Homo sapiens: one gene and its partners. The protein of the gene in region 3 interacts with the protein of the main gene of each other region in a pairwise test. Each region holds a gene or a part of one and is shown on either strand. Other genes may lie near its edges. The genes, in order: GJA8, KLRC1, MS4A13, LRRC3B, EREG, SLC7A1 and SSMEM1.

Evidence for each region.
Region 1: the proteins of MS4A13 (region 3) and GJA8 interact in binary tests that used the Homo sapiens proteins (3 or more experiments, as listed by UniProt).
Region 2: the proteins of MS4A13 (region 3) and KLRC1 interact in binary tests that used the Homo sapiens proteins (3 or more experiments, as listed by UniProt).
Region 4: the proteins of MS4A13 (region 3) and LRRC3B interact in binary tests that used the Homo sapiens proteins (3 or more experiments, as listed by UniProt).
Region 5: the proteins of MS4A13 (region 3) and EREG interact in binary tests that used the Homo sapiens proteins (3 or more experiments, as listed by UniProt).
Region 6: the proteins of MS4A13 (region 3) and SLC7A1 interact in binary tests that used the Homo sapiens proteins (3 or more experiments, as listed by UniProt).
Region 7: the proteins of MS4A13 (region 3) and SSMEM1 interact in binary tests that used the Homo sapiens proteins (3 or more experiments, as listed by UniProt).

The regions. Positions count from the first base shown.
Region 1 is NC_000001.11:147,905,795-147,909,769, forward strand, and holds the end of GJA8 (gap junction alpha-8 protein), read left to right. Parts: intron 1-1,361; exon of another isoform or gene 1,362-2,150; 5' UTR 2,151-2,161; coding exon 2,162-3,463; 3' UTR 3,464-3,475; downstream 3,476-3,975.
Region 2 is NC_000012.12:10,447,953-10,450,377, forward strand, and holds part of KLRC1 (NKG2-A/NKG2-B type II integral membrane protein), read right to left. Parts: intron 2,016-2,425; coding exon 1,962-2,015; intron 1,437-1,961; coding exon 1,285-1,436; intron 1-1,284. UniProt on the Homo sapiens protein: Immune inhibitory receptor involved in self-nonself discrimination.
Region 3 is NC_000011.10:60,521,892-60,525,391, reverse strand, and holds part of MS4A13 (membrane-spanning 4-domains subfamily A member 13), read right to left. Parts: intron 1,496-3,500; coding exon 1,439-1,495; intron 186-1,438; coding exon 66-185; intron 1-65. UniProt on the Homo sapiens protein: May be involved in signal transduction as a component of a multimeric receptor complex.
Region 4 is NC_000003.12:26,625,772-26,629,271, forward strand, and holds part of LRRC3B (leucine-rich repeat-containing protein 3B precursor), read left to right. Parts: intron 1-3,500.
Region 5 is NC_000004.12:74,375,145-74,378,644, forward strand, and holds part of EREG (proepiregulin preproprotein), read left to right. Parts: intron 1-3,500. UniProt on the Homo sapiens protein: Ligand of the EGF receptor/EGFR and ERBB4. Stimulates EGFR and ERBB4 tyrosine phosphorylation.
Region 6 is NC_000013.11:29,519,189-29,522,688, reverse strand, and holds part of SLC7A1 (high affinity cationic amino acid transporter 1), read left to right. Parts: intron 1-232; coding exon 233-372; intron 373-3,139; coding exon 3,140-3,242; intron 3,243-3,500. UniProt on the Homo sapiens protein: High-affinity, low capacity permease involved in the transport of the cationic amino acids (arginine, lysine and ornithine) in non-hepatic tissues.
Region 7 is NC_000007.14:130,210,860-130,214,101, reverse strand, and holds part of SSMEM1 (serine-rich single-pass membrane protein 1), read right to left. Parts: intron 623-3,242; coding exon 568-622; intron 1-567.

The DNA of each region.
Region 1 (3,975 bases), on a different chromosome or scaffold from region 3:
CGAGCTGCTGGGTCCTTCCCCCTCTCCATTACCCATTTCTCCAAGGAACTCTTCCCAATGCCAGACCCATGACTGGGGATGCCACAGCTGCTGTCACTTTTTCAGGAGAAGAGAAGCTGCTGCAGGATGCCCTGCCTGATTGGGAGCTTATGAGGCCTCAAGAGGAGGAGCACTCTCTGCTCTCCCACAAGAAGCGAACAGCTATTGTGCCTGCCCTGACAGCACAGGCTGGACATTGCAGATGCCTGCAATTAGTATCCTGCCACCAGGTTCTGTCTGGCCAGACTCCAAATCACAGGTTGGAAATAGGCTTTTGTGTTTAACAAATATCACTGTGATTAAAAAACAATAGGCATATCCCTTTAGCCCCATAGGTTCCTAGGCCTATAGCATGGGGCATGGCTAGAAGAAGCCCAGAGCAAGATCCTCTAACATGGGCTCTTGCCCTGGTCTGAGGGCAGTGATGAGTAAACTTATAACTCTAGAGATGTTCAAGCTGCAGGAACAACTGTTCTCCATTGAGGTGGAAGTTTTGCTCATCATTCTTTATAGGTTACAGGTTTGCACTGGATGAATGACCCAGTTGCAGCCAGCCCCTTGTCAGCTCAATGCCATTTCCATTAGCCATTGCTGTGCTACAGGCATTATATACTATCATGTTTAACGATATTTTTTCTATAGACCAAATTTTTGACTCTATTAAAACAGCCATATGTTACAGACCCTGAAACATTTTCATTCCATAGGACACTAAAAGTGTCCTAGAAGACCTTCCTCATCCTGTGACATGATTCCTTCCCAAAGCATTCTCTCTGTTCTTTGGATTTAAAAGAGTAATAATAAAAATATACGGCCCTCAATGTGTAAAGCTATTAATAAGGGTTTCCAGATTTCAACCTAGAGAAGAGGAAACATAAATTAAGAGCACAGAAGTCAAAGAATTGTGTAGCTTTGATTGCAGGCAGTTTATCTCAATGGTGTAGTGGGAAGAACCCAGCCTTTGTGATCAAGCAAACAGAACTGCTGCTATTTAGCTGTCTAATCTTGGACAATATATTTAGCCTCTCTGAGCCTCAGATTTCTTTTTTCTTTTTTTTCTTTTTCCTTTGAGACAGGGTCTTTCTCTGTTGCCCAGGATGGAGTATAGTGGCACATATCAGGGTTCACTGCAACCTCGACCTCCCAGGCTCAAGCAATCTTCCTGGCTCAGCCTCCCAAGTAGCTGGGAACACAGGCATGCACCACCGAGCCCAGCTAGTTTTTAAAGTTTTTTGTAGAGATGGGGTCTCACTGTGTTGCCCAGGCTAGTCTCTATCTCCTGGGCTCAAGTGATTCTCTTGCCCTGGCCTCCCAAAGTTCTAGGATTACAGGCATGAGCCACTGTGCCTGGCCTTCAGTTTTCTTATTTGTTGGAATCAACTTAGTTAACAAATACTTATCAAGTTCTCACTGTGTGCTGGGCTGTATGTCAGGCATTGAGTATATAGCTGTAAATAAGACAGGCATGGCTCCTACCGTCATGGAAATTACAGTCTAGCAGGATCAAGTTAAATGAAATAATATAATGTCAAAGTTCTTTCACAAAGTTGGTATTCAATAAATGCTAATCCCCTTCCACTTCCCTTCAAATATACGATCATTATATATTCTGACACTCAAACATAAGATGGCCACAGACAATTTCATACATACAAGAATTGTGTTGGGAGCCCAGACACCCATAGTATAAGGGAACTCTTCAGCATTATGTCTCACGAAACTTAGATCAGTGTGTGGTCTTGATTTAAATCCATGTAACCAAGGGTTTCTATTTATGGTCAACAATGAATCCTTATTTTTGGTGGACTTTAAGGAATTATACAAATATTGCCTCATTGATGCTTTCAGACCATTTGTGAAGTGAATGAGAATAGGTATTATTATTATTAAACCCATTTTACAGATGAGGAAGCGGATGGAAGCACATTCTTCGGGGCCTTCTTTGTTCTCTAGTCCTAGTCTGCACAAAGGAAGCACTGGATAGACGCTGTGTGCACATTGACCGTTCTGGCAACTTGGAAAGGAGAGGTACCCCGCGTTAGCAAAAACAGATATTGACTCAGGGTTGCATTGCGGCCGCTCAGCTCTTGCCTTCTCCCTCATTTCTTCAGGTGGGTGAGAAATGGGCGACTGGAGTTTCCTGGGGAACATCTTGGAGGAGGTGAATGAGCACTCCACCGTCATCGGCAGAGTCTGGCTCACCGTGCTTTTCATCTTCCGGATCCTCATCCTTGGCACGGCCGCAGAGTTCGTGTGGGGGGATGAGCAATCCGACTTCGTGTGCAACACCCAGCAGCCTGGCTGCGAGAACGTCTGCTACGACGAGGCCTTTCCCATCTCCCACATTCGCCTCTGGGTGCTGCAGATCATCTTCGTCTCCACCCCGTCCCTGATGTACGTGGGGCACGCGGTGCACTACGTCCGCATGGAGGAGAAGCGCAAAAGCCGCGAGGCGGAGGAGCTGGGCCAGCAGGCGGGGACTAACGGCGGCCCGGACCAGGGCAGCGTCAAGAAGAGCAGCGGCAGCAAAGGCACTAAGAAGTTCCGGCTGGAGGGGACCCTGCTGAGGACCTACATCTGCCACATCATCTTCAAGACCCTCTTTGAAGTGGGCTTCATCGTGGGCCACTACTTCCTGTACGGGTTCCGGATCCTGCCTCTGTACCGCTGCAGCCGGTGGCCCTGCCCCAATGTGGTGGACTGCTTCGTGTCCCGGCCCACGGAGAAAACCATCTTCATCCTGTTCATGTTGTCTGTGGCCTCTGTGTCCCTATTCCTCAACGTGATGGAGTTGGGCCACCTGGGCCTGAAGGGGATCCGGTCTGCCTTGAAGAGGCCTGTAGAGCAGCCCCTGGGGGAGATTCCTGAGAAATCCCTCCACTCCATTGCTGTCTCCTCCATCCAGAAAGCCAAGGGCTATCAGCTCCTAGAAGAAGAGAAAATCGTTTCCCACTATTTCCCCTTGACCGAGGTTGGGATGGTGGAGACCAGCCCACTGCCTGCCAAGCCTTTCAATCAGTTCGAGGAGAAGATCAGCACAGGACCCCTGGGGGACTTGTCCCGGGGCTACCAAGAGACACTGCCTTCCTACGCTCAGGTGGGGGCACAAGAAGTGGAGGGCGAGGGGCCGCCTGCAGAGGAGGGAGCCGAACCCGAGGTGGGAGAGAAGAAGGAGGAAGCAGAGAGGCTGACCACGGAGGAGCAGGAGAAGGTGGCCGTGCCAGAGGGGGAGAAAGTAGAGACCCCCGGAGTGGATAAGGAGGGTGAAAAAGAAGAGCCGCAGTCGGAGAAGGTGTCAAAGCAAGGGCTGCCAGCTGAGAAGACACCTTCACTCTGTCCAGAGCTGACAACAGATGATGCCAGACCCCTGAGCAGGCTAAGCAAAGCCAGCAGCCGAGCCAGGTCAGACGATCTAACCGTATGAAGTGACGCCAAAGAAAAAAAAAAAAACGCCCAAGCTTACGTAGGGCAAGATGAAAGGAACAGGTGCCAACATGATCTGAATCTTCTGTCTCCTGTCCTCCCACCAGCCTCTGGTTGGACAGGCACTGCAGCAGGGCAGTGCACTCCAGGCAACTCTAGGAAACAGTCTTTCCCACATCCAGCATAAGGGCTACCAAGATAAACCCATCGACCCACTAAAGTTCCCCAGTCTCATAGGACTACCCCGCTCCTCCAACCCCAGCAGCTATGGGTGACTCTTCTTTCATCCCCATTTCTCCATAGAAACCCTTAAATCGGAATTGGGGTTGCCTCATAGCCTTTTACCCATCTTGTCTCAAGCTCACTAAGCCAGAATCTATCATCCCAGCATTTCTGAAGCAGATACCATGTGACCATATTTCAGGGATCCAGACTCAAAAGCCTACAGAATACAGACAGGTGACATAAGTTGCAAGACAGGCCTGTTCTAATGCAAGGGAGAGAATGGGGCTG
Region 2 (2,425 bases), on a different chromosome or scaffold from region 3:
TCAGAGTTGGAGATTTAGAAGAGAAATTAGAGGTTGTGATTCAGAAATAAATGACATGGAAGCTACATATTGGGTTTTCTGGGTACCACACCATTCTTTAACTAGATAAGCCCTCACTTTTTTATCTGATTTGGTTTTGGTGGAATAACAGTGATCCTGACCAGGTGGTGTAGACTCGTCTCTCTCTGCTACTCCCTACTAAAAACAACTATAAACTCTGGGATTAATGAAAGACAAAAGCAATGGAGAACTCTGAAAGGTGGAAAGAGAAAGATGAAATTGTCTGGGACCCTAGCATCAGGGATCAACCAAGTGTCCGAGCGAGCATGTTAAGTCCTCCACACGACAGAAGAAGGTGACCTAGGCCTGCTGTTTCCCTACACCCAACCTGGCAATAGGAGGAGGCCCAGCAAAGCTCACTCCTGTTCTGTATTGAAGGGGAGTCCCCTCCGCAACAACAGGCAAGGCTGGTACCACTGGCAAGGATGATCTACCAGGAGACTTGCTACCAATACAGCCAGAGGAAGTACTTCCTTCTCATACCAAGAGACACCAGAGTGGATGTGGGTGAGGAGGATCAGCAAAGGAACCCAATGACTACCAGTGCACCACCCAGGGTCCTCTTTGTCCCTGAGGGCATGAGACTCACTTCCCCATCCAGAGACACAGGATTGAATGGATTCTTAGTGTTCTTTGTACATACTACAGCAGTGAACAGTAATAAACGACAGATAACCGCAATAATATGGAGGAATTGCATAAATATCAGATAGGAGTGAAAAACACAGACATGAAATTCACAGTGTATGATTCCCTTTATATAAATTCAAAAGCAGGTAAACGTTATTTATAACATTAAAAGTCAAGACAGTGTTTTGGAGAGGAGTCAGGATAAGTGATGAGGGCATACACAGGGGTGGAACTACTAGAGCTGGAAACTTTTATTTCATGATCTGACTTGTATCACAGGAGTTCATTCACTTTGTGATCAATCTGCATGACCAGATCACATCATGCCCGATAAAATTAGATAGCAAAATGTATTGTGGATTGAAAGCATTTCTAGAAGCATGGTTTTCCATGAAAAGCAAAAACTGAAAATAATCAAAAGTACATTAGCAGTATATGAATTTTAAAACATTATTAAGTCAATCAATTAAATACTACATAAACTTGAAAACATATAAGCTAAATGTATATACCCACACATATGGATGATTTCTACAAATATATTATCGACCGAAAGAAGCTTTTCATAAAGTGTTTAAAACATTTACATCTTACCATTTCTTCTTCATTATCTATAGAAAGCAGACTGGAGTTCTTCGAAGTACAGGCCAGCAAACTCTCTTCCCAAGTTCTTCTTTCCTTACCAATGTAGTAACAACTGTTGGAATATGTAATCCACTCCTCAGGACAATGGCCACAATGACGTGCTAAATAAAGATATGAATTACTATCTAGACCAATATGAATTTTTAAAAATGAAAATTAGTTCACATATTTGCAAACATATAAACCTATACGTATGCAACATATCTATACATCTTCATGGGCTGGTAAATATATAGTGTCAAAATACCCAGTCACTTATACACACATGCGCAATAAAGGGTCAGCCTTTCATCTCCTAATTGTGTTCCCATATAAAGCAAACCAGCAAACAAAAATCCACTCTATACATGTCTTGAAAAATCAATGAACTAATCTGATTTTTAAGGAACAATAAATAACTTGTATCTTATCATATTATAGCAGTAAGAATTTGAACACAACAGATAAAAAGAAAGCATAGTGATTTTACTTATAGTTGATGACAAGTGAATGCCTTACTCTAATTTTATTTATGAACACTTATTGCCAAATTTTATAATTTTTCACCCAAAATTTTATTTTTGTACAGCCTAAGATCAAGAAAAAATAAACTGTACAATATTAAAACTTTAAAAATTATTATATACCTTTCTGAGTTCTTGTATTCAGGGAAGAATTGTTGTGCCTCTGTATTAATGTAGCTAGAAAAATTAAAGTAATCTTTGTAAAAAAATTAGCATCTAAATCAATCATAATAATTTTAAGTTTTTGTTTGAATTTTTTTGTATTATTTAGAGTTAGAATAATATGGAATAAAATTGATTTTAAGAAAAATTTGATAAAGTAATGGTGGTTTTTTGGAAAAGTATTTCATAGATCTAAAGAACCAAATTTCACCATCTCATATAGTTCTTATAATTCTTGATTTAACTACTTTCAAAAATTAATTTCTATTTCTCAGTAAGGTTTTTCAGACTCCTAGAACATATTTTTGAGTTATGAAATCCAAATATATACATACGATTGCATCAGAAGCGAATACTTTCAACAATTATTCTTTCATTTATTCTTTGACAAATTCAGAATAATCATTCCACATTTAGTCCAAATA
Region 3 (3,500 bases):
GATTTCAAAATTATTAAAAAGAATAATTTTAAAATTAATATGTTCCCATAGAATTGGTCACTTACTGCTTGTCCATAATTCCTGTATGACACAGAATTAAAATGAGACAACTCTATTATTGTTAGAGTTACTGCAGTAATTGTAGTAATTATGCAGATGATGTTTATGATTAAAGTACTTATAATCTGAAAAGGAGACAGAGGGCAAATTTATTATATTCAGAATAAACATTTTGGTGTAATAGTTTGCATTGCTGAAAAAACTCATCTAGTTAAAACTTTGATCTAGTTTCTGAAGTCTTAGAAGTATTAAATATTAAGAAAATATTTTTCTGATTTATATGAAGCCCAGTTAATCTGGAGGAAACATTAACACCATCAGTCCATTAATCATTAATCTTCCATTTAGGCTAAAACATATTGTATTTTTTGGGGCCGGGCGCAGTGGCTCACGCCTGTAATCCCAGCACTTTGGGAGGCCGAGACGGGTGGATCACGAGGTCAGGAGATCGAGACCATCCTGGCTAACACGGTGAAACCCCATCTCTAGTAAAAATACAAAAAAATTAGCCGGGCTTGGTGGCGGGCACCTGTAGGCCCAGCTACTTGGGAGGCTGAGGCAGAATGGTGTAAACCCAGGAGGCAGAGCTTGCAGTGAGCCGAGATTGTGCCACTGCACTCCAGCCTGGGTGAGAGAGAGAGACTCCATCTCAAAAAAAAAAAAAAAAAAGTATTGTGTTTTTCAATGTTATAGGTCATTTGGAAGAAAGCATATAAGATATGATTTGGACAAAAGTGGTTCCACTGTAAGAAAAAAAAAAAAGTGGAAAATGACTGCTTGTAGAAATAGGAGTCAGTTGATAAAATTTTAATCCTGGGTTTTCATTATCTAAGGAAATCTATCAGTATCTTCAGACATCATTTTTTTATCTGTAAAATTATGAGGGCAGACTAATTTCTAAGGTACGTTTTAGCTCTAAGATTCTAAAGTGTTCTTCCCAATTCTATCCACCTATACCATGCATGGATCTTTAATCTGGACCAATTCTGTACTTTGTTACAGGACACAATCTTGTTCCCAAACTGGATAGTTCAGAAAATGAAGTTTTACAGTAGTATAATGTCTATATCTAAAGGCATTAGGTCCTATTAAAATTTTTTAATTATAAAGTTTACACAATGTTAAAAGGCAGAACATCAAACAAAACAAAAACTATATATACATTTAGAAACCTATACATAAAGTAATCATGATTTTAACCAATACAGTATATTTGTCTATATTAAATTATGTTCTTCTAGATTCATTCTTAATTCTTTCATTTACTTTACAGGTAGGGTAGATTCCTTCATTGTTTAGACGTTATATTTTCATTAAAACTTAATATTTAGCTTTGTGATAAGTGATTTCTAGAGATACCTCAAACATTTCAACTTACTCCAGATCGAGTCGGATACTTTGTTACTCTTATTAGGAAGACTCCTGCAATGATAAACTGGATATAAAAACATATTTATAAATACTCATTGATAATGCTTGCCAATTTAGAATGTACTTTTAATAACTCTCTTGTAAGTCAATTATTTTAAGAATGCTAATAGTAACAAAATATACAGAAGTTTTAGTAGATGGGTCAGGACAAATTTACATCATGTAGTAATACATTGAAAGGTAATAGTAGAGTCACTCATAACAGAGACACATAGGGGACAGTGGGCAGATTCACACTGTGATAATATGCCAGACAGCCTAAGCAGTCCTGACCGGGAACCAAGTTTGCTTTTATGTGTATGAGATACATCATATATAACTCATTTGATTATTGCTTTTAATGTTATCCTTCCTAATGAGATGATGACACTACTTATGATTACTATGTACATATCCAAATATGGAAAAAGTGGTTCAAGAATCTATTCCATATTGTGATGGTACAAAATATGCAGTCTCTTTTATGAGATTGTAGTCATTATTAAGGTAATGGCAGAAATTCATGCCTTTGCCTTTGTTTTTTAAAACAGAGGTTCCATTATTTCATGTCAGGAAGTCTGTCTACTTCCAAGAAGTATAAAACTATGCCATATTGTTTGAAGATGGGTTGCACAATTTCCTCAAAGTATTCCTTATTTGTTTTATTGATAAGACACTAAAGATCCAAGTCAAAGGCTATTTTTGTCATGCTATACACTATATGTAGGAAGCCCAAACCTGAAGCTTACAAACTTCCCATGGATAATTTTAAATCTATTTGTTCAGCACTTCATTCCACAACAAAAGCTGAGATTTCTAAGGAGGTACACAGTGAACGTAAGAACTAGCTCAGAATTTAAAGTGAAAATATCTTGTGAATTTTGAATTAGAGTGCTCTCTAATGAGATTATCTTTCGATTACTATGTGTTTTACAAAATGCCTTTCAAAGTTTAGGCTTAAGTGAGAAGTTTAGTATTAAATTACATTTAGTTGAAATTTTAGATAAGTTATCCTAGGAGTTTAATATACTATTTTTATAATATGAGTGGTCAAACACTAAGGAAAATGCATCATTTATTTGGATTTTGTTGGAAAATCCACAGTTTTTCTCCTCTTTTTTAAGGTAGTGCTTTGACACTTGTGACCCAGTGCATCATTTATCATTTATCACCTATGAACCAGTGCATTATTTATGAGCCATTCATCTTTTATGAACCATGTATCATTTATCTGGATTTTGTGCAAAAATTCAATATTTTTCTCCTATTTTTTCAAGGCAATCCATTGACACTTATGAATTAGTGTATGTATAAAAGTGGGAGACCTCCTAGAGATCATTGTTTCTTCTAGTGATTAATTGCTGTCTCAATGGGCAGCCATATTGTATCCTACAGCCCTCATTCCATCTGTTCGAAGTGTGGGATAAGTGGTTTCCTTGCTCATTATTGCTATCCAACCATTCTTTCTCCTCCACCTTTGAATCACATGTCAGTTTCTATAACTCACTATCCTTCATGGTTTAAGTAATCTATTGACCCCTTGGCCATTCCTCTTTTCGAATGAATTGAAATTTTGACTCTCTGATTCTCTCTCCAACATCACTTAATATTTGGTGATTTTTACACACACACACAAACACACACATACATATATATGTGTGTATATATCTATATATATACATCTATCTATCTATCTATCTATCTATCTATCTATCTATCTATCTGTCTGATCTTTTGATATGGTTTGGCTCTGTGTCCCCACCCAAATCTCATCTTGTAGCTTCCATAATTCCCATGTGTTGTGGGCGGGACCCAGTGGGAGATAATTGAATCATGGGAGCGGGTCCTTCCCATGCTGTTCTTGTGATAGTGAATAAGTCCTATGAGATCTGATGGTTTTAAAAATGGGAGTTTCCCTGCACAAGCCCTCTCTCTTTGCCTGCTGCCATTCATGTAAGATGTGACTTGCTCCTCCTTGCCTTCTGCCACAATTGTGAGGCCTTCCCAGCCATGAGAAACTGTAAGTCCAA
Region 4 (3,500 bases), on a different chromosome or scaffold from region 3:
GGAGTTCTTACTATGTGCCAGACACTATCTTTGATGTTGTGTGTGTTTGTGTTAGATTTAACCCTCACAACAACCCTGAAAAATGGGTAGAGTTATTTATCTCATGTTATAGATGGAGAAACCCAGTATTGAAGAATTCAAGTTATTTGCTTATTGACATTCAGCCAGGAAATGGTGGGGCTGAGTGGTCTGGTGATCAGAGAACACTGAGTGTGTCCCATACTCCCAGCCCTATTTGGTACTAAAAACCATTTGTCTGGAAGGAAGCATGAGTGAGGCCCCTCACCCTTTACTCCAAACTGCAGCGGCGTACTATAAGTGCCAGTCCTGGCCTGTGAGCCCCTGTGACTAGAGTATTAGGGAGACTGATGTTACATATCGCCTGTCTCAAAGTTTGTTGGGGTACACCTTGGTATAGTGGAATACTAGTAGAGGAAATCGATTTGGAGAACTGGCTACTGGTAATGGACTTCTCTTCTGAACCTTTTGTAGACATTCCCTTTTTAAATAGGAAGGTAAATGGAAGGAGGGATCCAAATATGAACAGAGATTTGCTCTGTAGTCAAAAACTAGAGGCAGTTTTATGTAGCAGTTGTATTCTGCAAATGAAAGCCTCTCTCTGAATTGAGTCACATAATTAGTTAGAGCTAAGAGGGATCTCAGATATTATCCCACCCAATCCAGACTCAGGGAGGAGATTCAATGCTGAGCTCAAGGCCATTTGGTGCATTTGTAGCATAACTAATGCTGGAACCACTGCCTTTTGACCCTTGCTCAAATATGGTACCATTATACATAAATAAATTATGCTCACTCCTGCTGTTTTTTTAACATCTTAAAATTAATTAGGAAAAGGCTTTTTATTTTTAAAAAGACTGTTTTGCTTATTTTCGTATAAATGCTTCTCAATCAGCATAACCAGAAAAACTCTATATCATATATAATGAATAAGCTACCACAAATGTGACTCTTTTTGCAAAAATAAAACATTGCAGAATATTTGTAAGCCTTCAAATCAACAAAAATTAACTATGCAAACCTCTGGATGATTCTAAATAAGATTAAATGATTTCTAATGATTTTAGCAGTCTTCTGTTAGATTGAGTTGCTTCATCCTTCTGCACTCCCAGGTATTTGTGAAAATAACAGGGAATTTTTCCTATCACAGGAAACATTCTTTTGAATACAGTGGCATAAATTCTTGGATTTCTCCTGGATTCTTGACTTTTCATTAAAGTTTATGCTGATGTAAAGCTGAGGCAAAACAATATATTTCTGTACTTGGGGCTCAGAAAGAGGAAAAATAGTTCTTTGTCACTTCCGATAATATTTGCCACTTCCTCGCCTACCTGGCCCCTTCAACAAAGGGGACTTTCTGCAGTCACTTGAGGATTTCATATACCTTTAAGCGTTTTTGTGGGACAAAGTTCTAGTTTCCAAGAACACCTCATGTCTTTTCTCTGTAGCTGTAGTACCAGGATGTCCTCCCCTTGGAGACAAACCAACAAAAAGTCAGCCAGGGTAAACAGGGAGGAGGGATAGAAGAATCCTGTTTTTCAGAATCAGATCAGCGGGGCAAGAGTCATAGACAGATAGTGGAAACCTGGTGCCTTTTAGGTCACCTGGAATAGGATTTCCATCTCTAATGCTGTGGCACACTAGGACCTAGGCCATCCTATAGTGAGGACCTAGGCCATCCTATAGTGGAGGAAGAAAAGAAGAGAGTGAGGCAACAATATTGTCAGAGGAGGGATGAGGTGGAGGAAGATGGAGGTGAGGCTTGGCTGCTGAGGCACCCAAGTGTGACCAAAATGCCCACAGAGAGCCAACGTGCACTAAGAGCTGCTCCTCCTCTTCCTTTTTTTCCTACCCTCGACCTCAGTCTGCGTTTTGTGTCAGGTTGACTGTTCTGAATCCCCAAGACCCCAGTTATCTCAAGGAGAAGCATTCATTTTCCGGAGAATTCATTAGAAGTCAATTTTGTTTTTATGCAAGTAGGAAAAACTTGCACAGCTGCCCCACTCTTCAGGAAGAGCCATTCAAAACCAGATCATCCAGAAGGGTGACCTTCTGGAGGTGGGGATACCGGCTTAGTTGAGTTGCAGCAGTGTTAAAGAAAAGAGACATAACACTGAAGTTAAGTGTGACAATATCCAAAAGAAATGGTCTATGTCCTAGGAACCACAGGAAGGGGAATCCTTTGGAACCTGGGCAGACATTCTGGTTTCCAATTCCCAGTTTATTCAGGGGAGCTCTATCCTCATCTTACTTATGTGGTCCAATCCCCTCTACTTATTTTACTGTGGCTGCTAGGTGGTGCAATATCAAAAGTCCCACATGACACGTCTGCTGGGGAGATTCTTTGGGGTGTACCTTTATCTTAAATCATATAAATATGAGTTCATTGACATTTAGAATAACAATTATTATTAAGCAATATGCTCTAAGACAAAGGATATGGAAAAATAAAAACTTTTATTCAGAACACAATGAATAGATATGTTTATACAATACATAGTATGAGTTAAAAGTCTTGGGTAAGATATTTGAAAAAAAATAATCAAGATTCGGAATATCTGATCTTGATTAATTTTAATAGCAAGAGAAGCTAAATAATAAGGTTCTGTAGAAAGAGTTTGAAGAAGATACTGGAAAAAAAAAAAAAAAAGCTCAGAGTAGGACCTGAGAAGCTTTACCCTTATTGATTTTATTTAAAAAAATATAAAATATCTTAATCTATATTTAGATTTGAATAATCCATAAGATTAATAAATTTTGTATTCATTTTATTATCTGAAGATTGTGACTTTGATGAACTTTATTTGATAAATGGTTTGGAGCCATGATGGAAGCTCTGAGATGTTAGTATATATCTACATATACTTTATAAAAACTTAGTGAATTAATACATCTCAACATGATAATGACATATGAAATGGCCATTTCATATGAGAATGAAATCTGGAATCTTCTCAAAAGCTGATAGGCTTGAACATACTATTTCTCCACCACAGGTGGTAAGTTAATAGTAAGGGCCATTTAGTTCTTTCAAAATAGATAAATGAGTAAATACTAAAAAAAAAAAAAAAAAATCCTCCACAAATAAAAACAGATTTTATTCTTTAGGAGGATAAATGAACAGATTAGGAAAGGTTATGAAATTTACAGTTTCATTTGATCCTAAGCTCTCTAAGCTACCTTTTATGTTAATACTTGTCCAGTGCAAATGTCACTACCTTTTCAGACAGTTTAAAAAATGCTTTAGGTGCCTTTTATTAGAAATAAAATGGAAACAAATATTATTTAAAAATGTGAAGCTATTCTCAACCATGGAGTAATATTTGACAAAGTGGTAAGTATGTTTTCAAATACAGATTAGTTTCCTTTTATTCTCTTTTCCTCCTCTACCCCTCCCCCTCCCTCCCTGCGTCCTTCCTTCCTTCCCTCCCTCACTCCCTCCCACTCTTCCTCCCTTCCTTCCTTTCTTCCTTTCTTCCCTT
Region 5 (3,500 bases), on a different chromosome or scaffold from region 3:
TCAAGAATGAAAAAGCCAAATATAGTATTTGAGGTCCAATCATAGAGAAATTATGTTCAAACAACACTAAGGTCATGAAAAGCCTGACATTAAGGAAATATATGCATGCTTTAGCATTTATTCCCTCCCTGTATGACTCATTAAAGTAATGACTAGCGATTCTTTTTTTTTTTTTTTTTTTTTTTTTTTTTTGAGAGGGAGTCTTCCTCTGTCGCCCAGGCTGGAGTGCAGTGGCGCGATCTCCGCTCCCTGCAAGCTCCGCCTCCTGGGTTCAAGCCATTCTCCTGCCTCAGCCGCCTGAGTAGCTGGGACTACAGGCGCCCGCCACCATGCCTGGCTAATTTTTTTTTTTTTTTTTGTATTTTTAATAGAGACGGGGTTTTACCGTGTTAGCCAGGATGGTCTCGATATCCTGACCTCGTGATCCGCACGCCTCGGCCTCCCAAAGTGCTGGGATTACAGGCGTGAGCCACCGCGCCCGGCCTGACCAGCGATTCTTAAGGTTAACAGGATAGTGGATGTAATATTTCTCTGGAGATAGATTTTTTATTCATTGGATCGCATTCACTCTTCTACCCTAGTTTGCAAGTGTTTGGGAGCAGACGCATATTGCAGGAACATTTGAGAACCACTATTTTAAAGCAATAGTGCTGTGCAGATGGACATGACTTAGAATTAATTTTGCTGTTTTCTTGGCCACATCCATCCATGATGGAATTGCAGTTATACACTTTAATTTGAAAGGAACATTTAAAATTATATACGATTCCACCTGTAAAATATCCTGCTGTAGGATTAATGCAGCAAGTCTCACAGAAACTATCCTGAGCGATGGACTGTGTCCAAGGGAGCGTCACGAGTAAGGAAAGTCCAGTCTTTGTGGAGGCACACCCTGGGCTGAACATTCTTTAATTAACAAAGACAAACATTTCACCTGTGGCCTGAACAACTGGAACAAAGTTTCCAACGGTGGAAAAACTAACAACTACTAAAAACCTTTAAAAAAGAAGACTAACAGCAACACTCCAAAGTAAGTTGGATTCTATAATAGTTGCAGGTTGCAATTGGAGGCAATTCCAAGCAGGAAAGGTTAGGCTTTAGTTTATGCAAAGGATAGAGAAACTAGCTTCAAATGTGCATTTTTTTCCCCCTGGCTAGCATTTTCCTGGAGGGAGAATTGGTAATGTCTCCTCCAAAGCTTTCCTCAGTTGAAGAAATATGTAGGAATAGGAATGTCAAGGATGTAAGCACGTGCAACTAAAACTCCAATTTGTACCGAGGAAACTGTATTAGTTAAAGGATTTCATTCTTCAGTAGTGAAAGTATGGTGAAATTATTATTGGGATATAAAACAAAATTGACTTGAATGAGAATCTAGCTTATCCTCCATAAAAAGCTTAGTGAAATAGTTTTCAACTCTGTTCAACTGACAATGAAATCTAGGCTTTAGCTATTTCTTTGTCATTCAACAAAAATATATTTTTTGTAGTTCCACAAGAGCAATTGAAGCAGCATTTATATTGTAGAAAAAGCATGGAGTGGGGAGGGGATAATTCTGAACTTTAAAGACAACAGAATTTTCAAATTGTTGAAGAACAGGAGACTTGATTTCAAAAGATAAATTTGTAACTCTTCTCTTCTGTGGTCACAAGTGATCTTAGACAAGACATTTAATTTAAATACACTGAGGGTATTTGAGACTAATAACTACTTCACAGAATTAAGTGTGAAATTTGATATATGAAGTTATACATTATGATGCTGATGCCGATGTGTAATTTACTTTTCAGAACCCAAAAATATACAATCGGCTTAACAGATACAAGCCTTCTCTAACTGAGAAAAAATAAAATTCTTGTATTACACGAATTAAATCTTTCTTTACAGTACCAAATTACAGAGATAGACAAACTTGTTATAAACCAGAAGAGGGCACTGTCCACATACACTGCTAAAACCAGAGGCTAGAAGTTGAGAGTCAAGGAACATTTATGGGCTGTGACAGCCATTTCAGAAAAAAAAAAAAAAAAACATTAGTTTATTTCACTGTATTCTCCCCAAAAATCTATAAGATAGGAAAAATTAACACCCAGAAAAGTAAATTAATTTTTTTTCAAGATCACGTAGCTCAAGTTTTCCTCACAAGACTGCCTTTCCACCATAATTTGTGGCCTCTATGTTGGGTTAAATACTCTACTTCAATTACAGCTATCATAATTTGTTCTCTGTGATGTCCATTATACTCTAGTATTATTGCCTATTTCCAAATTCTATAAAGTGGCCCATTTAACAATATGTATCCTTGGGAAAAGTTATTTAAACTCTTTATGCTTTAGTTTTCTCTAATGGGGATAATAATAGTATCTTCCTCAAATTGGCCCTGAGAGGACTAAATAATATAATACAGATAAGGTGAATAGGACCATACCTGGTTGTATTAGTTTGTTTTCACACTATTATAAAGGACTTCCCTGAGACTGGGTAATTTATAAAGGAAAGAACTTTAATTGACTCACAGTTCTATATGGCTGGGGAAGTCTCAGGAAACTTATCATGGCCGAAGGCGAAGGGGAAGCAAGCCCCTTTTTCACAAGGTGGCAGGAGAGAGAGGCGGGAAGGAGGAACTTCCAAACACTTATAAAACCATCAGATCTCATGAGAACTCACTCACTATCCTGAGAACAGCATGCAGGAAACTACCCGCATTGATTCAATCACCTCCCTCCTTGGACACATGGGGATTACGGGTCCCTCTCTCAATACATGGGGATTGCAATTCCAGATGAGATGTGGGTGGGGACACAGAGCCAAACTATATCACTGGTACATAGTACATGTTCAAGAGATGGATCGTCCTCTGTCTGAACTGTGAAAGAAATGGAAAGTTGAATATATTTTGTTGCCTTTATGGAGGCATTAATCATCCTTTCATAACAGTTACCACTTACTTAGCTACTTCAACGAAACAGGTTGATTCAAACTCTTCCTGTGCTTACAGAAACTGGATTCTCAGTGTGGTTCATCTGGCATGCCTATTCCTTCTCATATTAGATAGGATATATTCTGATTTTACCTAGATTACATTTACCTAGCTGCCTATCAGTCAAGGAGAATTTTCAGGAGTAGGAAGTCATTCTAGTTATCACGCACCCTAGGCCAATAAGCACCGGAATCCAAACGAAAATGTCCAACCGACTAAACAAAATCACATAGGAGGTATTTATTCTCAAAAGACAACCTTTAGGGTGTAGAAAAAGCAAGCTTAACACACATGTCATTATCCCCCACGGTAGGTATTATTCATTTCTTCAAACAAAATATGTCTAATTTTTTTCAAATCTCAGTTCTGAAATTCGTTATTCCCCAAAGCAATTGCAAGCTGAAGCCATTAATTAATTTAGTGGAGCTTAATTGCTGCTACTACTACTACTACCACCACCATTAGTATTTACTATATAACAGTTACTTAAATAAATTGGAAAGAGTGTTTGAAGTGCAAA
Region 6 (3,500 bases), on a different chromosome or scaffold from region 3:
TAGATGTTCCCTATTCTTTACCTTAATCCTTATTCACAGTGTGTGCTCTTTCTGGGATTGATTTATTAAATGCCAAGTCTTTTAGCCACAGGCCTCACCCAGCGTGGAGGGACGGCAGCTCTTGGTGAGCTCAGACTCCCTCTCCTCCGTGGTAAACCGAGCATGGCTGGATGTGGTGCCTTTATCCCTTATGAGCCAGGTTCACTCACGCGGTTTGCCTCTCCCCATCTAGTCTTCTAGGTTCCATGTTTCCCATGCCTCGGGTTATCTATGCCATGGCTGAGGATGGACTGCTATTTAAATTCTTAGCCAACGTCAATGATAGGACCAAAACACCAATAATCGCCACATTAGCCTCGGGTGCCGTTGCTGGTGAGTACTAGAACTCATTTCACATGGAAATGTTTTAACAATGGAGTCATTACTCCCTAGGGAGACGTCTTGCGCAGTTCTGGTCTGTGAGTAATCTTAACTGGTCTTTTTAACTCCTGGTTTTTATACTTGGAGCCTGGTTCATTGAAAGTTGACTGACCTTTTGACAAAAGGCAGAGGCCCGTTTGACAGAGGATGGGAGAGAATTTTTGAACAGTTTGCACTCTGGTTTTCATCTCAATGGGCGGAGCTTAGAACACACAGTATTCGAAAACCTTTTCTCCCCATTTCTGGACGTTTCCCTGAGTAGTCAAGGGCAGGCTGACACCTTCCTGCATGACACAGGCCAAGGGAGACCTCGCCAGTACCTGGAAATTCGGCGTCCATTTCTGAATTCTCTGGAAAACAAGTGTCCCTTATGATCAGTGTTTTATGAAATGTGCCGCCTCTTCCCCAGAGAGTATCAAGGGTGCTGCTGATGAAGCCACTTGCCCCTAAGTTTATACGTAATAGCAGACCCAGTGGAGTTTCATCTTGTCAGATGAGCCTCATCGCTGAGAGGACCATTTTGATGGATGAAATCAGTGGACTAATCTGAGCCGTGTAGGTGTTCCAGGGCCCCAGATGAAGGAAAGGAGAACCTACAAGGAAGCTCGTGTGCACACTGTACCTGTGGTCTATGTCTCCTCCTTTCGCGATTGCATTTCATAGCCCCGAGAGGCAGACGCCCGCCCCTTTCGCAATTGCATTTCGTAGCCCCAAAAGGCAGACGTCAGCCCACTGTACAGATGTAGAAGTGGAGGCCCAGGGAGGTGAAGCGAGGATGTGCACCCAGGGCGGTGGAGCGGCCTTGTGATTCCAGGGTTGTTTTTATGCCAAAGTAGCCAAGCTCCTTCCAGAGTCTGAGCAGAGCAGTGGGTCTTTTTGGCAAATTAGGGCATGTGAGATCAGTCACAGTTTCTAACACAGCGACTTGTCAAATAGCCATTGGTAAGGCACTTGACCTTCTTAAATGAATGAATTATTCACTAAGTTTTATTAGCATTTATGCCTTTAGCAAACTGTGCTTAGTTTTGTGGATTAATATTGTATAATAAAACACACCTATTTTTAAATTATGAAACATTTTCTTATGTGATTCTATGCTCTTGAGAGTGACCACAGTGGTCAGATTGAGAGGCACTATACATCAGAATGTGACCAGTATATTTACAGGATTAAGGACTTGGAAATAGTCATTGTTTTCTCAGGCTTTACGTGGAATTTGATCATATTAAAGACTGGCCTTAATTTCCTTCCCCTGCTGATAGAGGGAGATCAAATCATGCTCTTTGAAGTGACTGTAAAGTACATGCCATTCACAAAATCCAGGATTTACCCTTTTCATTTGGTGGGAGTGGTAAATAAGTATTTGGTTTTCTAAAATCACCTCACATGGAAGAAATTAGTCTCAAGTTTCCCGTGAGTAGGAACATCGGCATTTGTGGCATGCACAGTTGGGCGCTGTTCTGATTATCCAAAAGGCCCTCCCTCATTGCTCTTTAATTTTGTGTTTTATTCTCCATTTAAATTTGTTTTAGTTGCAGTGATCTAGAGGGGCTTGAGAGATATTTGTGGAAAAATAATGGCTTTGTGTTTATATTTTAGCTTGTGTTGATTGCATGTGTTTTGAAAATATCCCAAAGCAGATGTAGCCAAGTTGTTTTTTAATGAGTACTTGACATACACACCCATGTGAATAGACACGTATACTCTCACAACGCTCACAAAAGATGTTCAAATAAGGGTGCAGGTTTTAATTCATTTTAAAGGCAAGGGACACAGTGAAGGGGCTGATACTATATTGTTTGAGAACAACTCTTCAGATTTCTTCCACGTGAAGTGACTTCACATGTGAAGAACTCTGCTCTCCTGCCCGCCTGCCTGGGTTAGGACCTCCTGTGAGTCCTCCCAGAGCACCAGACTTGCCCTTCTTTATCACCCAGCACTGTTGTCCACTAATGCCTGTGTCTTGGTGGGGTACACTCAGGAAGGCTGGGGACTGTGGTCTGCCCTGTTCAATAGTGAGTACCTAGAACCCAATGATGGGCACACTCTGACCGGAGCTGGATGGATGGAAGATGGGTAGATGGATAGATGCTGAATGGATGGATGGGTGGATCGGATGGATGAATGGATGGATGGATAGATAGATGGATGAGATGGATGGGAGATGGGCAGATGGATGAGATGGATTGATGGATGGATGGTGAGTGGATGAATGGAAGATAGGTGGACAGATGGATTGATGGAGAATGGATGGACCGATAGGATGGATGATGGATGGATGCACATGAGTCTGTGAATCAGCATGGTCTAGAGGAAGACACACAGGACTCAGAGTCATAAGAACCCAGTTCACATCCTTATACCCTATGCTTGTGAACTGTGTGACCTTAGATGAGTCTCCTAACCTTTGTGAATGTTTATATCTATAATGTAGGGATGGCTTACAAAGTTGCCATTAAAATCACAAGAATGAAGGGATTCTCTATACAAATGTTAATGATGATTACTGTCTGTTGAGGACTGTGTCTGTGATTTAATCACAAGCTTAAAGGGAAGCTTGACTTCCCTTTAAGCTGTGTCTTTCCATGGGAAGGCCAGGGAGGGGGTGGGAGTAAAAGCAGCCCCCTTCGCTGCCCTGGATGGTGGGCGGCAGTGGTGGTCCTGGTTGTCATTGCATGCAGATGGCCCTCCACAGATCCTGGTGTCTGTCTCTTCCCAGCTGTGATGGCCTTCCTCTTTGACCTGAAGGACTTGGTGGACCTCATGTCCATTGGCACTCTCCTGGCTTACTCGTTGGTGGCTGCCTGTGTGTTGGTCTTACGGTATGTATGGCTTTTGGGGGTCTCATGACAGAAATGCAGATGCACCTGGTAGCCTTTTCACAGTTCAGCTATGGTTTATGTGATGAATGAAACTTTTAGGTTGGTGATAGCTCCATTGGGAGCTGCCAAGGAGAGGGGAGGACCTGGGTTGAGAGCCCAGTTAGGAGGACGTCCTTGGCAAGAGTTGGGTGGCCCCTCACCCCCCTCTATCATGTGCCCTCATTTTTATGGCTAAATGTTGGGTGGATAGAGACAGAT
Region 7 (3,242 bases), on a different chromosome or scaffold from region 3:
GGAGAACCAGTTGTTAAACATTTACCAGTGCACCACTGCTTATAGGTTATTGAAAAAGATGTCATAGACAGTTCATAATCCTGTAATAGCACTAACCATGAGGATGTGGGAAGGGCAAGCAATGTGAAGGGAGAGAGCTAAGGAGTGAAAAAAGAACTTGAGTTCCACCTCCCAGTAATTCATAGCTTCTTGCTAAGCAGCTAAACTGTCCCTCTGCACTAGGGAGTCCAAAGCAAAAACTCACCCAACCCCAATGGGCCTCCTCTAGTGTGCAAAGTCTTACAATGCTGTTGGCTGTTCATCTCTGTTTTTTGCTTTCCACACTCAGCACAAATTTCTTTCTTTGTCTTTATTTCATTTTTCTTTTTTTCTTTTTCTTTTCTTTTCTTTTTTTTTTTTTTTTTTTTTTGGTACTGGGTCTCACTATGTTCTCAAGCTGTGGTCTTGAACTGCTTAGCTCAAGCAATCCTCCTGCCTCAGCCTTCTGAGTAGCTGGGACTACAGGCATGCAACACCACACATATTCTTCCCCTCATAGTCCAACACCAAATATGCACTGGTTCTCACCTTTCCTTACTGAAGTACTTGTCCCACTGCCTTCATCCTTTTTATCCTCAGACATCTGTTTCAGAAACATAGGTTAGTAAGAGTGATCTCAGTTGTTTTTTGATAATATGTACTTGTTATAAAACACTATTGCTGAGGCCCATTTATAATGTCTGGTTTTATTTTTTTATTATTTTATTTATTTATTTTTGGAGAGTCTCACTCTGTTGCCCAGGCTGGAGTGCAGTGGCATGATCTCAGCTCACTGCAACCTCTATCTTCCGGGTTCAAGTGATTCTCCTGCCTCGGCCTCCCAAGTAGCTGGGATTACAGGTGCCCGCTACCACGCCCGGCTAATTTTTGTATTTTTAGTAGAGACAGGGTTTCACCATGTTGGCCAGGCTGGTCTTGAACTCCTGACCTCAAGTGATCTGCCCACCTTGGCCTCCGAAAGTGCTGGGATTACAGGTATGAGCCACTGGGCCTGGCCTGACAATGTCTAATTTTAAACATTCAGTTTAAACAAGTACTTACTGAGTTAAATAATAAGCTAATTCAGTATGTATTGAGTTCCTGTTATAGTGATCCTACTTCCACTTCCCATTAAGACTATGCTTTGATAGCAGCATCTACCAAAATGTTTTGGACCAAACAAAATGGAACAGACTTGAGAGAAAATAACACTGACAAGGAGCTATAGCTTATAAAGCTTTCCTGTACCCATTTACATTACAGAGAAGTAGTGTTTTTAAAAAATTTGATAGTACTCAGATTAGTTTAGTTGTTGTTTTTTTGTTTTGTTTTTTTGTTTTTGTTTTTGTTTTTTTTTTGAGACGGAGTCTTGCTCTGTATGCCCAGGCTAGAGTACAATGGTGCGATCTCAGCTCACTGAAATCTCCGCCTCCCAGGTTCAAGTGATTCTCCCGTCTCAGCCTCCCGAGTAGCTGGGATTACCGACATGCACCACCACGCCCGGCTAATTTTGTATTTTTAGTAGAGACAGGGTTTCTCCATGTTGAAAAGGCTGGTCTCGAACTCCTGATCTCAGGTGATCCACCTGCCTCAGCCTCCCAAAGTGCTGGGATTACGGATGTAAGCCACCGCGCCTGGCCCAGATTAGTTTAGTTCTTAAAGGACACTTGATCAGGGTACATTACTGATAGTTCTTTAAGACAGAAGACATCTACCATACACAAAGATCTTTACCGAATTCATGAACTTAATATCTCCTTAATCCCTCCGAAAGTTTCCTCCAAAATGTAATCATGATATATTATTTGTGAATACAGCAACCAAAAGAAATGGATTTCTTTGAATAGTTTCAATTTCAAATATTCTGCCCCCCAATACTCCATAAATATATTTGTCCCATTTTTCAGATTAGTGTCCCACTTTCTAATGCTGAAAGTGATTTTGCCAAAAGACACAGATATAAACCAACTCTTTCAGAAAATAACAAAAACTAGAAATTTTCATTAACACCTTTGACATATAATTCTCTCTCCAGGAATCTATCAGCAAGAAATAACCCTCAGAAGAAAGAAAGCTTTGTCCACAGAAACATTCATCACAGTATAATTAGGATAATAGAAAATTCAAAAGTAGACAATGGTTTAAGTAAATTATGGTACAATTATATAATAAACAGTTGTAAAATTATTATAATAAAAGTATGTCATAACATGAGGAAATAAGTGTGCTACCATACTGGGTTAAACATCAAGATGCAAATTTGTATATACAGCTTGAGCGACAAATTAGCTTAAAATATGAAAAAAAAGACTTTAAGGAGCATATAAAAGTGATAGCTATGGTTGGCTTTAAGTGGTGAAATGGACTTTTTCTCTTCTAATTTTTTCAAATTGTCTACAATTAGGAAAAAAATGAGTTTATGTGGAAGTCCAGTTTCTTTGGGATGAAAAGTGCCATAGTTCGGTATTTATAACTGCAATCTAAGATCCTCAGCTCATTCTTAATATCTGATCTCTGCAATGGTAGGCAAGCATCTTTAATGAGGTGCCTTTTTGTTTTCTGGGTTACAGCAATCATTCTCCAAAAATCTTGAAAGCGGAGTTCACTTTTAAGATACCACTTTCTGGCCAGACACGGTGGCTCATGCCTGTAATCCCAGCACTTTGGGAGGCTGAGGCGGGCAGATCACAAGGTCAGGAGATCGAGACCATCCTGGCTAACACGGTGAAACCCTGTCTCTACTTAAAATACAAAAAAAATTAGCCGGGTGTGGTGGTGGGTGCCTGTAGTCCCAGCTACTCAGGAGGCTGAGGCAGGAGAATGGTGTGAACCTGAGAGGCGGAGCTTGCAGTGAGCAGAGATTGCACCACTGCACTCCAGCTTGGGTGACAGCGAGACTCTGTCTCAAAAAAAAAAAAAAAAAGATACCACTTTATAAAAAATGCTTTTGGAAGAGGCTTAAATATTTTAAATTTAATATGTATCACTTAGGTTATAGAAAAGGAAAAAAATAAATTTAATATATGTAAAGAAAATCAAAATAATTGGAAGTTTATAAACCTAAAAGTTAACAGTAGTTGGTTATTTCTACATAATCTGGAGTGATTTTTATTTTATTTTGTCTTCTGCCCTATAATTTCCACATTTTCTATATAATGTGTACTTTTGTAATAGACAGGAGAAGGTATTTAAAAACACTTATTAGGCTTATATCATTTCCACAG